2 linked regions of the Homo sapiens genome follow. The protein of the gene in region 2 purifies or fractionates together with the protein of the main gene of each other region. This does not show direct contact. Each region holds a gene or a part of one and is shown on either strand. Other genes may lie near its edges.

The links. The genes of interacting proteins can lie anywhere in the genome.
Region 1: the proteins of FUCA2 (region 2) and TVP23C purify together in Homo sapiens (affinity purification with mass spectrometry, with the first as the bait; 2 studies listed by BioGRID). This does not show direct contact.

What each region holds. Positions count from the first base shown.
Region 1 is NC_000017.11:15,535,324-15,540,048, forward strand, and holds the end of TVP23C (Golgi apparatus membrane protein TVP23 homolog C), read right to left. Parts: 3' UTR 1,657-4,725; downstream 1-1,656.
Region 2 is NC_000006.12:143,507,457-143,517,111, forward strand, and holds the start of FUCA2 (plasma alpha-L-fucosidase precursor), read right to left. Parts: upstream 4,265-9,655; 5' UTR 4,179-4,264; coding exon 3,955-4,178; intron 1-3,954. UniProt on the Homo sapiens protein: Alpha-L-fucosidase is responsible for hydrolyzing the alpha-1,6-linked fucose joined to the reducing-end N-acetylglucosamine of the carbohydrate moieties of glycoproteins.

The sequences.
Region 1 (4,725 bases), on a different chromosome or scaffold from region 2:
GCACTTCTCTTGCTCTCTTGGAAGGCTCATTGTTAGAACCCAGTGCCAGGTTGTGAAGAAGTCAAATGTGCCCACAGGGAGAAACTACACAGTGTAGGTGTTCCAACCGAGAGCCTAGCTGAGGCCACAGCTGACAGCCAATGTCAACCTCCAGGCCAGTAGCTGAAAAGCTCCCTGCCACTCCCTGGCTCCTTCCCCAGCCATCACTGTGCTCCATCCAAATTCCTGTCCCACACAATTTGTGAGCATAATAAAATGACTTTTCACCAGTAATTCTAGGAGTGGAATTTTACGTAGCAACAGCATCTGAACAGTGCAACTCGGCAGCAACTACAATATTCACTTAATTACTACATAAAGGACAACTATGTATTTACTAAATTATTACATCTCTAATACTGTACTAACAACTGGAGTTGTTAGTACAATATGGAAAGTTAGTTCAAATGGAAATAATCATGGATAATGCTCAAAGTGCACTGTATCGACAAGAATCCAGTTAGGCTATGAGCAACAGAGAAGCCAGAACATTAACACTTGAAGAAGGTAGTTCCTCCCTTCACTTTTATTAAAAGTTCAAACAGGTCGCCAGATACGATGGCTCACGCCTGTAATCTCAGTACTTTGGGAGGCTGAGGCGGGCGGATCACCTAAGGTCAGGAATTCGAGACTAGCCTGGCCATTGTGGTGAAATCCCGTCTCTACTAAAAATACAAAAATTAGCCAGGTGTAGTGGCAGGCTGGTAATCCCAGCTACTAGGGAGGCTGAGGCAGGAGAATCACTTGAACCCAGAGGGCAGAGGTTGCAATGATCCGAGATCACACCACTGCACTCCAGCCTGGGTGACAAGAGCAAAAACTCTGTTTCAAAAAAAAAAATTCAGACAAGTAGTTCAGGGCTACTATACCCACAAGATGGGATTCAGACAGTATCTACCTCATTTCTCTGCCATTCACAAAACGAAGCCTTTATCACATAGTCCAAGATGGCTGCTCTAGTTTCTGCTATTGTGTCTACCTTTCAGGAAAAAGGGGGAAGGGATGGGCGTGCCTCCTCCTTTTAAGGATACTTCCTGGAAGTGTATCCATTGGCCCAAACTTGGTGGTGTGGCCACACCAAGATACAGCAATAAAATCTAGGAAAAGTTTTATCTTTATTCCAGGATGCCATTCCCTAGCTAATTAGGTGGGAAATCTGTAGAAGGAGAAAAACGAATATTAGGGAATACAGGGTAGCTCCTACCACATGCATATTCTAAAATTCATTGTTACTTGGTTTAGGATGCAGTTCAAATAACACAGTTACCTAAAGAACTACACCAATGTATCCTTTGTTAGACTCTCAACCCTAAAGATTTAGGTTAGATCTTTCAGATTGTATTTTAAAATGTCTTTAGTGCAGTATCAATTCTCACCAGACAGAACAGCTAAGTAAAATAAACAAGCTCTTAACAAATTATTAATTTTTAAGAAAGGAAAGGGCATTTAGAGCAAATATTTTCTCTAAAAAATACTAATATATCATGTTTTATATCCTACAGATATTCCTGCAATCTGTTTTCCTTGGGAAAGTCACTCATTAACCTGAAGTTCAGTTATATCATCTAAAGTATTACATATTTATCATGAGGGTTACATGAGATTACACATGTCAAATGCCTTGTAAATAGTAGAATTTTATACAAATATAAAGTTTTGCACCTTCAAAGCTATCACTCCAATAAGACACTTATTCAATTAAACAAATAATCTTAAAAACTATTTTAACAATGTACAAATATATTCACAACATAATCTGCTGATTAAGACTTCAACAAAGTTTATAATACCTACAACAGAATTTACAGATGCCTACAATAGTTTGTAGATTGGTTTAATTTACAGTTACATAGATTGCTTTAAGAAATACCATTAATACAAATGCATAATTTACAATATCCCCATTATAGCAAGAAAAAAATAGATTCAGAAAATAAAATGTCTTTTAGGCATTTATTATGCCAAGTATGTAAATTATTATTCTCATTATGACATGAGAATAATGCTCTTTTAGTGGTAAAAGATCTATTAGCTCAAGGTCCACTGAAGAACTTTCAATCTAGCTATCCTTTCTGTAAAATAAATAGAATAGCAGCAATCTCTGGGTATTCCTTAAACTATGATGATTCCACTTATATTAACTGGGCCTTAAGTAGATAACTTCTTACAAACAAAAATAAAATTTTATAAAGTAGTTAATACCACTGGCCCTAATTGTTTTCACTTGCTTGCATACGTCTAAGAAATTTCCCCATGAAGTACATATTAAAAACTAACAATTATTTCTAACTTATACATAAGCCAAAGTGCTCACTCTTACCATAGAAGCAAAACTTTCTCCTGAAAACAATCTACAGAAATAATATGTAAACATATAGAGCTTTGAGACAGACTAAGAACATCCTCCTATGTTCTATGGATCAAAATGCAAAGGTCTCCATTATCTGTGTAAATGAACACTTTCATTAACTTGGGATATACAGGTATTACATGGCCGTGTGCATACCTATGGAATGTGCATACCTACACCACAGAACAAATCTTAACAATGTTTCTAGTGCCAACATATACTTTCTAGCCCCAACTGCTGGAAAGGAAATAAAAACTTAATATGAAAACTACTTTTCCTTTTTATAAATAAAGTTTTTAAGTGGAAAAACAAAGCCAACACTCCTCGTTGCAACATGGACTAAGCTCTAAAAGGTTGAGTCAAGAATCTCTTCAGTTGTTCCCCAATGTAACAAAGCACATAAGCTTTCTCTATTCAGGAAGTCTGATCATCTCCAGTGTTCCGCAAAAGACAAAAAAAGAACTCCTTAACATCAAAGTTATTTCACTTCACACACCATGGACTTGGGGCCTAGGCCTAGGAAAACATTCTATATTTCTAAGCAGAGCATTACCTTACATACAATGGCCCAATCACATTAAAAAGTAGACATGCTAGGCTGGGCGCCGTGGCTTACACCTGTAATCCCAGCACTTTGGGAGGCCGAGGAGGGTGGATCATGAGGTCAGGAGATCGAGACCCTCCTGGCTAACACAGTGAAACCCCGTCTCTACTAAAAATACAAAAAATTAGCCAGGCGTGGTGGCGGGCGCCTGCAATCCCAGCTACTCGGGAGGCTGAGGCAGAAGAATAGTATGAACCCGGGAGGTGGAGTTTGCAGTGAGCCGAGATCGCGCCACTGCACTCCAGCCTGGGCAAACAGAGTGAGACTCTGTCTCAAAAAAAATAAATAAATAAAAAAGTAGACATGCGCTAATGAAGTAAATCCATGGATACCATCATCCACCCAGCTGTCCAGTTTGTCTCATTTGAGCAGACGCCGGATACCATGTAAGACACTAACCCTATCCATGTTATGCCAGGTTTAAGGTTTAATTTCACCTGTATTCCATGTTCCTCCCCACCTTCAGAAACACTGAAAATTCTAACGAAAAAAACCTAATAAGCACATACATGAAAGTTACCCTAAGGTGGACCACAGTAAAGGTATATTGGAGCCATGCAAAAATCCTTCAGAATGAGATGATCATGTCCCTACATGAATATTCATTTTCTCTACTTTTCATCTTCTGTGAGAGAAACTGTACAGTAGAATAAAAAGAACAATAAATTTTGAGTACAGAGGGCTGGGTTTAAGATCTAGCTTTGTACCACTATTAGCTGTATAATCTTAAGTAAATAATTTAATTTCTCGGGGCTTTAGTTATCTAAAATGTAATCCCTGGACCAGTGCCCTCAGTACCACCCAGAAACTTGGGAGAAATGCAAATTATGAGACTCCACCCCCAGATCTACTGAATAAGGAGTCTGGAGGTGGAACCCAGCAATCTTGTGCCCTCTAGGTGATTCTCATGTATGTTCGAGTTTAAGAATCCCTGTCCTACATAATATCACTTGCCCAACCTACTGTACTAACCAAATGCAAGGTATTACTCATATAAAGACCTAGTCACGGCCAGGCGCCGTGGCTCACGCCTGTAATCCCAGCACTTTGGGAGGCGGAGGCAGGCGGATCACGAGGTCAGGAGATCGAGACCATCCTGGCTAACACGGTGAAACCCCGTCTCTACTAAAAATACAAAAAAGCCAGGCGTGGTGGCGGCGCCTGTAGTCCCAGCTACTCGGGAGGCTGATGCAGGAGAATGGCGTGAACCCGGGAGGCGGAGCTTGCAGTAAGCCGAGATCACGCCACTGCACTCCAGCCTGGGCGACAGAGCAAGACTCCATCTCAAGAAAAAAAAAAAAAAAGACCTAGTCACTTTTCCCAAGAGATTTAACCAATAATTATTTACCTATGACTACTACTCATCCTGCTGAAAACCCTGATGTTGAGGTATTATAGTAAAATCCTTATGTTCTAGGGGGAAAAAAACATCTGAGTACAAATGTTATGGTCTTCTTGTGATTCAACTGTTCTCCCTAAAACCATACAACATACAGGCTGGGCACGGTGGCTCACGCCTGTAATCCCAGCACTTTGGGAGGCTGAGGTGGGCAGATCACAAGGTCATGAGATGGAGACCATCCTGGCTAACATGATGAAATCCCATCTCTACTGAAAATACAAAAAATTAGCTGGGCGTGGTGGCATGCGCCTGTAATCCCAGCTACTCATAAGGCTGAGGCAGGAGAATCACATGAACCCGGGGGGCAGAGGTTGCAGTGAGCCGAGATTG
Region 2 (9,655 bases):
GCACATACACACATATTTAAAAGAACTGCTCCAGCTCCCCTTACCATTTACCCCTCACACAGATAGGACCCAGATTCTCTTTCTCACTTCCCCATTAGTTTGACTTGGCTTTAAAGATAGCTTATGCAAACTAAACCCCCTCTCATTTTCCACCTATCCCCCTGTGATATCCACTCAGCTCATAAACTAGAGCATTCTAGGCAACTCAGCTACCCATTCTCTCTTTTTTTTAAGACAGGGTCTCACTCTGTCACTCAGGTTGGAATGCAGTAATGGAATCATGGTTCACTGCAACCTTGACCTCCTGTGCTCAAGCAATCCTCTCGCCTTAGCCTCCTGAGTAGCTAGGACCACAGGCACGTGCCACCACACCTGGCTATTTTTTTTTTCTTTGTAGAGATGTGGTTTCCATATGTTGCCCAGGCTGGTCTTAAACTCCTGGGCTCAAGCGATCTTCCTGCTTCAGTCTCCCGAAGTGTTAGGATTACAGGCATGAGTCACCGTGTCCAGCCCCATTCTCTTTTAATTCTTCACTTTTAAATCACAACATGTAGTATATGTCTTTACACATTGTCCCTTGTAACATAAGTGATTAGGGCTTCTAAAAGGAAGACTACATGCCTAAAACATAATATGCATCTATTATATTCAGTAGTAGAGAACACTTTGGAGGCACAGGACAGAAAGGGAGGCAAAAGTAAAATTAAAAAGATGCTGTTATTTTAATAAATGGACTCAACCTTCAACAATTACTTGCTATACGCATTCATTCTAAGCAATGGTATATTGACCCTAAACTGCGTAAGCAAGACTTCATGAGGAAAAGCACATCTACACATTTTAGATAAACACAGCAGTAACTATCCTCATGAAATAGATGCAACCCCCATTTTTGACCCACCTCCTGCTTTTTCTATCACCATTCCTTTCATATGAGTATTTCTACAGGATAAGCAAATCCATAATCAGCACTATATTTCCCAAGACGATCAGGAGACTCTGCTAAGAAGAAATAATTGAAGGGCATACTATGCGGCAGGCATGCTGTTTGCCTGCCCAAAAGTCGTATTTACGTAATTTCCCAGCTTCCACTACAGCTGCGACAGGGATGTGAGATCCATGCTGGCCAAGGGAACTTGAGGGAAAGCCAACTTTGGGGACTGTGGAAATGGTTTCCCTCCTAATGAAAAGAGACACTGGCCTTCCTGCCTTTGGGCAGGGTTGTGTGAAGTTATGGTGCCTGGCTGCCATCCTGTGACCATGAAGGGACAAGTCCCCAGGCTGAGGATGAAAGAAAGAGCCCGTGTCTTTGATTTCATCAATGAACCGACTACTCTAAATTTCCTGTTATGTGAGATAACAAGCCCCTATCATTATACCTTTTAGTTGGGTTTAAAATCCTTGAAGCATTTTTATTATTTATTTATTTATTATTGATTAATTGATTGGTTGAGACAGGGTCTTGCTCCATTACCCAGTTTGGAGTGCAGTGTCATGATCATACCACACCACAGCCTTGAACTCCTGGGCTCAAGCGATCGTCCCACCTCACCCTCCTGAGTATCTGGGACTACGGGCATTACATTTTAAATTGAACTGCAAAAGAGAAACTGGGACATTCAGAAAGTTGAACAAGAATAAGGAATTTCTCCTAGCATCATCTAATTTGAACCTGCACTGTCCCCTACAGTCTAGACTTGAATTTCATGCTGAGAGATGAAAAGAGGCATTTATGGTAAAGGTCTATCATTTATATTTGGTTTTTAATAGACATTTAAAACAGTCACATATACTCATCTATACTGTTGATTCCCCGAAAGTCAAATTGAGAGTGAGGAGCAGAGGATACAAAGGGAAATCACAGGTAATTAAAGAATCTTCCACAGGGTTAATGCATTTTCAGATCATCAGGAATCTGTTCTCTATTTTGTTTAGTATGAGAAGTATCTTTATTATTCTAGGTCAAAATAACCATGGGTTTATCTGTAGAAAATGAAGTTATTCATAGCAAAGAATAAAATGACTCAAAACTAGCTGTTTTATTTTGGCATAGTACTAGTCTCAGTCAAAAATGTCAAATCCTCTTTGGCACCAATATATCTTTACCTAATCTTCATGGTTGAACAAAATGATAATATAAGATACAATTTAGGGGGAAGAAAGTTGTTAATTATGTACCACACTAATCTAAAATATTTCCAAAACAAGCTCAAGATTCCTTACAGCCCAAAACATGCAAATAAAGATTTGTAACATCTTTTTGAAGTAGCTATGTTTTGGCATAAGAATAAAGAGTCTCTGTTTTAGAAGGTGAATTATTTAAAATATGAATAATTCTCCATAGCTTATCCAGTTTTATTTTTTACATCAATTGACCTACCAATAAGAAAGGTTACTGGTTGCAGGTAGTCAATTTCTTTGTCATGAAAGGGTTAAAATATGCTATTTTGGCACATTTTTAAAGGTAAAGAAACTCGAAAAATAGCAGGTGCATGAAGAGCACTTTGCCCTTTGTGCTGTTTCTTAGGAGAGAAGATGAAATTCCAGTATGAAAGGCACTCTGTACTAGAAGGAAAGGCAACATCCTAAGCTTCAAAGACAAGAAGTAGAATACTGTACAGAACTTGCTAAAATTTATTATTTAAGTCTCCCCACATAATTTAGTCACACAATGTCAATTTAATTCTTGGACCCAGCAGAGACCCTAACAGAATGGAGGTGTAATTTTTCTACCCCTAGAGTAGAGCATGGTACCATGTATACTATGTAATGTTAATATAATATATAGTTCATACTCTGTATTGTGTCTACTAAATATAGTATGTTAATTTGGATGTATACTATTTATGTAGTATATAGTTGATTCAAATAAATACTGTTTAATGATTCCGTTCTTTTACTTAAGAATATATTATGTGTCCCAAAGTCCTGGAATTACAGGTATGAGCCACCGCGGATCACCTGAGGTCAGGAGTTCAAGACCAGCCTGGCTAACATGGCAAAACCCCGTTTCTACTAAAAAATACAAAAAAATTGGCCAGGCATGGTGGCGTGCGCCTGTAGTCCCAGCTACTCAGGAGGCTAAGGCGCGAGAATCGTTTGAACCCGGGCGGCGAAGGTTGCAGTGAGCCGAGATGGTGCCACTGCACTCCAGCCTGGGTGACAGAATGAGACTATGTCTCAAAAAAAAAAAAAAAAGAATATATTATGTGTATGTTTCTATATATGCACACAAAATATTTCTGTTTTGAAGGACTTAATACTTGTAGCATTTAGTCAGAAAAGACATGTGCAACAGTTTAAGAAATTACATGCACATTTTCACATAGATCTCAAGGTAAAATCTAACGCACAGATTTTTGTGTAGCACCTTTCATACGGCAGTATGATAACTGGGTTGTGTTAAGAGTACCATTCTAGAACCTCTTTAAAAAGTTCCTAGAGCCACACATGGGTAACATGTTAACATTAAGTAGCCAATGGTGTTCAATGAACAGTCGTTTCACATACTCATGACTATGTTTTAACCATAACTTCATGGCAGAACGACTGTAAATTGGCAGGTAGCAGCAGAGCAACCATAGGCCATTGTGCCTGAGTCACCGCTCGTGTGATGCCCCTGCACAAACTGATGAATGTCTGTAGTAGCTCGATGTTGTAGTGTCATAACTACAGCTTAATATGCGCAACTATGAAGAAGCTGAGGAGTCAGGAGTATCTGAAAACTCTTACAGTCACACGGAAGAAAAATTCCCTGTTCATCCAGCAGAAGCACTTAGGCAGGAAACCACATATTCGACACCCGGAAGTGCGAAACGCGGGTAACGCAGTGGGAGGTGAAACCGACGAGGGTGCAGGCAGCACCAGGCGGCGAACCAGGCCCGCTGGGTGGTGGCTGGAGGCTGCGGGTGGGGACAAAAGCGCGGCAGACGAGACAAAAGGGAGCGCACTCACCAGAACCACTCGCTACCGAAGCTGGGCACGGAAAACACTCCCCAGTGGATGAAGATGCCGAACTTGGCCTGGTCAAACCACGCGGGCAGCTGGCGGGCGTCCAGGGACTCCCAGGTGGGGTCGAAGCGCGTGGCGCTGTGGGCAGGGCACGGCGGCGGCGGCAGCAGCAGCAACAGCAACAGCAGCAACGGGAACGCGAGCCTGGGGAGCTCCTGGGGCCGCATGTCCCGGCGCAGGCCGGCTGTCCTCTCTGCAGGCTCCCGCGGCCTCGGGAGCGCTGTTCTTCCGTCTCTGCCGCTGAGTATGCCGCGCCGCGGTCACCTGACCAAGTCGGACTTGGAAACCGGCCACCCTTCCCCCTCTGGGGCGGGAGTGGCCACTCTCCCGGGCGTTCCGAATGACCTCAGGAGGGCTGCATCGCTCAGCATAACTAAGGCCAGCATTACCCCAAAGCCAGCTGGGACGGCTTTGCTAAGGCTCTGTCCTCTTGAGGGGAAAATATGAGTCTGAGTCAGGGCCTTGTGGCCAGCGCCTCTGCCCTCAAGCAGACACGACCCTGACCAAGAAACTGCCCAAGAAGACAATGCCCCCAGCCCACCCTGGTGGCTGCTCCACACGTCCGAAGCGTGCACGAGAAGGTCAAGGCAGGAACTTCAGCCGGGTCTCGCCATGATGGAACATGGAAAGCAACCTAGATCCTTCTCGGCCTCTGTATCAGCTCCCAAGATCCTGCATGTTAGAACCGTGGTTGTCAACCTTGAATTTGTATCAGATGAAATTCCAAGAGCTTCAGATTCAGCAGTTAGGTTGGGGCCCAAGAATTTGCGTTTCTACCCAGTTCCTACTTCTAGGATGTTCTGATGTTGGGCCGGGCGCGGTGGCTCACTCCTGTAATCCCAACACTTTGGGAGGCCGAGGCGGGCGGATCACAAGGTCAGAAGATCGAGACCATCCTGACTAACACGGTGAAACCCCGTCCCTACTAAAAATACAAAAAATTAGCGGGACGTGGTGGCGGACGCCTGTAGTCCCAGTTACTCGGGAGGCTGAGGCAGGAGAATCGCTTGAACCCGGGAGGCAGTTACAGTGAGCAGAGACGGTGCCACTGCACTCCAGCCTGGGCTACAGAGTGAGACTCCATCTCAAAAAAAAAAAAAAAAAGAAAGAAAACAAAATTGTGATGTTTCTGATTGGTGGTCCAAACTTTCCTGAGAACCACTGCATTGAACAAGGAGATGATCTGAGACAGGTGAAACCAGTGGAATGAATGTTTAAGAAACCTGCAAGCTTGGGAAAAAAGGCCAGCAACTTGGAAAGATTAATCAAAAGGATATTTGGGAAGCTTATCACCTCCACCTCTTGTTTGGTTTGTTTGTTTGTTTGTTTGTTTGTTTGTTTGTTTGTTTTTGAGACAGAGTCTCGCTCTCTCGCCCAGGCTTGAGTGCAGTAACATGATCTAGGCTCACTGCAGCCTCTGCCTCCCGGGTTCAAGGATTCTCCTGCCTCAGCCTCCAGAGTAGCTGGGACTACAGGCACATGCCACTGTGCCAGACTAATTTTTGTATTTTTCTTTTCTTTTTTAGTAGAGACAGGGTTTCACCATGTTGGACAAGCTGGTCTCAAACTCTTGACCTCAGGTGATCTGCCCGCCTTGGCCTCCCAAAGTGCTAGAATTACAGGCATGAGCCACCAAGCCCAGCCTCTCCTCCACCTCGTAAGTGTTTTCAAAGTAAAGCCAGAATCCTCAACTGCTTCTGCCCCCATGAAATCATTACCCTTCAATGAGCCAATTCAAATGCTGCTTCTTTTGTGAAGCTTTCTGCCACCACCCTTCCCTCCCAGAATGTTGTACTTTCCCTGATCTGCTTCATAACACCTCCTTCCAAGCACACATAGGATTTCACGCATCCTCTAGTAGCTAGGTGGTACAGGTCTGATTTCCCATCAGACTGTGAGCTTTTTGAGGGCATTCATAATGACCTTCTTTTCTGTAGTGCCTACAATTACAGCAGAAAAGCAGCACTCAAAATGTTTGTTGAAGCTCTCCAGTGAACTGGGGTTCTAATTATTGAGTGAAGAACTTGACACTAAGTGGCTGTTGCCTGCATTATCCCAACCCATCTCTGCAGAGAGATGGGAGCAGCAGAGGGCGCTGTCACTGCAGGTGTAGGGGCATTTTTCCTCTCCATGACATGCCAGATGGCCCCCCGGGGCCACAGCTCCACCGTAAGAGTCCCCAATTTTGTTTTGTTTTTTTACAGTGAGGGTGTTCTAGAGGAAAGGGCTCAACGAATCCAATTGCAATAGCTCCAGTTTGTGATAAAGATGACAATTTTTTTTTATTTGAGACAGAGTCTGGTTCTGTTGCCCAGGCTGGAGTGCAGTGGCACAGTGTTGACTCACTGCCACCTCCACCCCCGGGGATTCAAGCAATTATCGTGTCTCAGCCTCCCGAGTAGCTGGGATTACAGACCCCAACCTCCAGCTAACTTTTGTATTTTCACCATGTTGGCAAGGCTGGTTTTGAACCCCTGATCTCAAGTCATCCTCCTGCCTCAGCCTCTCAAAGTGCTGGGATTACAGGCATGAGCCACGGTGCCTGGGCTGACAAATATTTATTATTGAGTTTGTGGAACCCAGAATGATCTAGGGCCTCAGTGGCCACTGAACCCTGGGGCACACTTGAACAAAAATATGGGCTTCTCAGCCACTATGCCTTGACATCCTCTCTAATCAGAAGTTTGTGTAATAAGTGCAAAAGACAATATTCACAGTGACAATGATACTGTGAACTGCCATAGGGAGAGTAGACATGACTGTGGTGACAATGCAGCGGCAGCAGGACCCTGTCCTCTCATAAGTGGGCATCCTTTCCCCATGTGAACACCACATAGCAGAAACGCCCATCTTCCAAAGCCCTTTTATCATGTTATGAATTATTTACACTTCCATATATTTCAGTTAAAGAGTGGTAATCAGATCTGTATGGATGCCACTTGGGTCATTTGTCATTTCACTTGAAGGCAAAGAAATGTTTTTAACTGGTAAGTACAACCTTATCATAAAAGTCTATTTTCTGTAAGAAATACTGAAAATATATTAAAGACCTCCCTTAGTGCCCTTCAGGACACATAAGAATCCTAATATACCAGGTTGGGAACCATTGCTATAGGATTTGAAAGGAATAGTAAATAGTATTATCTGAAAGTGAAGAGGAAGAAGAGATTCTACTTAAAAATATTTGTTAAATGACTGAAAGAAATAAATCTATGAAGTCGTTTAGAACATGGTCCTTTAGGGAAAGACCTGCCTGCTGTAGATTCCATTCACATTTTATACGTTTGTAATGCCTTACAAAGCTAGTCTTTGCACTTAAAGCTACTGCTAACTGAGCAATAGAATCACACCTCATAAGGCTTAAACTGTGTATTTAAAGGTTTTGATAGGGGATCCAGAAATCTGAGTGAAACCCTGGGTTCTGCAGGTACACATGGCTCATGTATAAGGCATTTGAAGGGCTTGTGGCCTTGATGGGGAACACTGTCAACTCTGATCCTGTTTGTCTGAGGTTACTTGGGGTACAAGATGAAGACAGAAGGGCGTGCCTCCCTTCTGGAACCATCACGGCCAGCAGCCGCATGTTGGGCAGCTGCTGATACTCAGGGTGCCCAGGCGGGAGATGGTGAGAGGCCAGCCCTAGCCAAATTCCTTGCTGCTGCCAGAGGAAGCAGTCTTGCCATGTGTGTCCACAGGGATAAGATTAGCTGCCGAGGTGGAGCTGATATCTGAGCGAGGCTCTCGAGGACACATTCTGGATAGATCTCCATATGGGAGTTGGATGACTGCCACCAGCCAGTCTTGGCAGTCCCCAGAATTCTTCTGAAGTGGACAGTGGAAGAAGTGAAACATTTGCCTGGCAGCTGGCATCAATGCAGTCTCTCTCTGGACATGCAGAAGAAAAGGTTCAAAAGGAACTGAACCCAAACCAGTCTTTATTTGGTAAATATCCCAGCTTCACGGTAGAAGAGCAGGCATGGGGGAAATAAAAGAAAACCCGCCTTTTTCAGGCCAGGGGGCAGGGAAGAGAAGCAGAGAGGAATAAAGGGAGGAGGCCCCGGGGTGTCAGCAGAGAGGGGAGAGCTGCCAGGCTGTGGCCCCACGCCAGCCTCTGCCATAGGGCTGTGTAATCCTGGGGAAGGCGTTCAACCTCTGTGCCTCAGTTTCTTCACCTATTAAATGTGAGTGATAATCGTGCATCTCCCTCCTAGGGGTGTTGTGAGAATTAAATCATGAGAAGTACATGTTAAGCCTCGTCTACGTGTGGACCAGTATTACCATGTGTGTGTTAGATCAATTCAGGGGAGCCTACAGAAAGCAGAGATTTTGTCCTGATTCCCATTTAACCTGAAGTCCTAAATGAGAATCAGGACAGAAATGTCCTGATTAGGACTCAGGCTAACTGGCAAGTGTAGCAAGGTACAGCCATGTTAGACAGATGGAGAGGCTGCTTTTTACCTTTCCTGGGGTGACCTTGATATTCGAGTGACACAAACAGGACCCAGAAGTAGCCAAGAACCTAACTGGAAATCTGTCCTGAGTGGTTCTCTGTGGCAGGGCCTCCTGTGCCAAGGACCTGGGGTTCACAGCCATTCCTCAGAGGACTCTTGCCTGTCTGTGGAAACTGAGTGGTGGGGGCAGGAGCCCGATACAGACCAGATCTTGAATTAGAGCAGCTTCAGGCTTCATCTGGGAACAGTGAAAGAACGGGTGTCAGCACTCCAGGACCAGAGAAGGCAGGGACGGCGTGTTCCTTCCCAGAAGCTGGAGAACCCCGCCCCTACTCCATGCCACCTTAGAGAGAAGCAGGGGAGGGGGAGGCATCTGCAATATTGAGCGTTGTTACCCAAAGAACAGCCTACATATTTGCTGAAGATGCTGTTTAATTGACAAGATTTGACTATGTTTAATGCAGGTAGAATAATTAAATTTGATCACCAACCACCCAGTGTGTGCATGGGGGACAGGAGCATGCTGTCTGCTGAGGCAAGTAGGGTGACTAGAAACAAGAACAAATTGCCACTTTTTCTCTGCACCAGGGTTGTCAGTGGCAGGTAATTTAATGATCCTAGTATGCAGCTAAGCATCAGAACACATGACACATTTGCCTTCTACTTCCGTCCTTCCCAATGTCTTCCGGGAAAAATGAATGATCTAATGAGTGGCTGTGCACGGAGGCCTAATTCAGGGAGATGAGGTCTCAGTCACACATTGAGTCTCCTTTCCAGTGGCCCTTATGGCTGAGGGAGACAGTGTCCCCTGGGCTGCACCAGTTGGAAGAGAAGGCGGAGTTTTCACAGCCCTGGTTAGAAGTGGGAGGGAAGAGGTCAGGTCCTCAAGAGGAAGAGGAAGCAAAAAAAGAAAGAAGGAACTGACAGAACTGAGATAGGGCTGGGCAAGAGGGAGAAAGGAGATGAAAGAAAAAAAGAAAGAAAAGAAAAGAAGGAAGGAAAAGAAAGAGAGAGAGAGAGAGAGAAGGAAGGAAGGAAGGAAGGAAGGAGAAGGAAAGAAGGAAAGAAAAAAGAAAGAAAGGAAAGAAAGAAAGAGAAAGGAAAGAAGGGAGGGAGGGAAGGAAGGGAGAAGAGAGAGAGGAAGAAAGGAAGGAAGGAAGAAAAAGAAAGAAAGAGGAAGGGAGGGAGGGAAA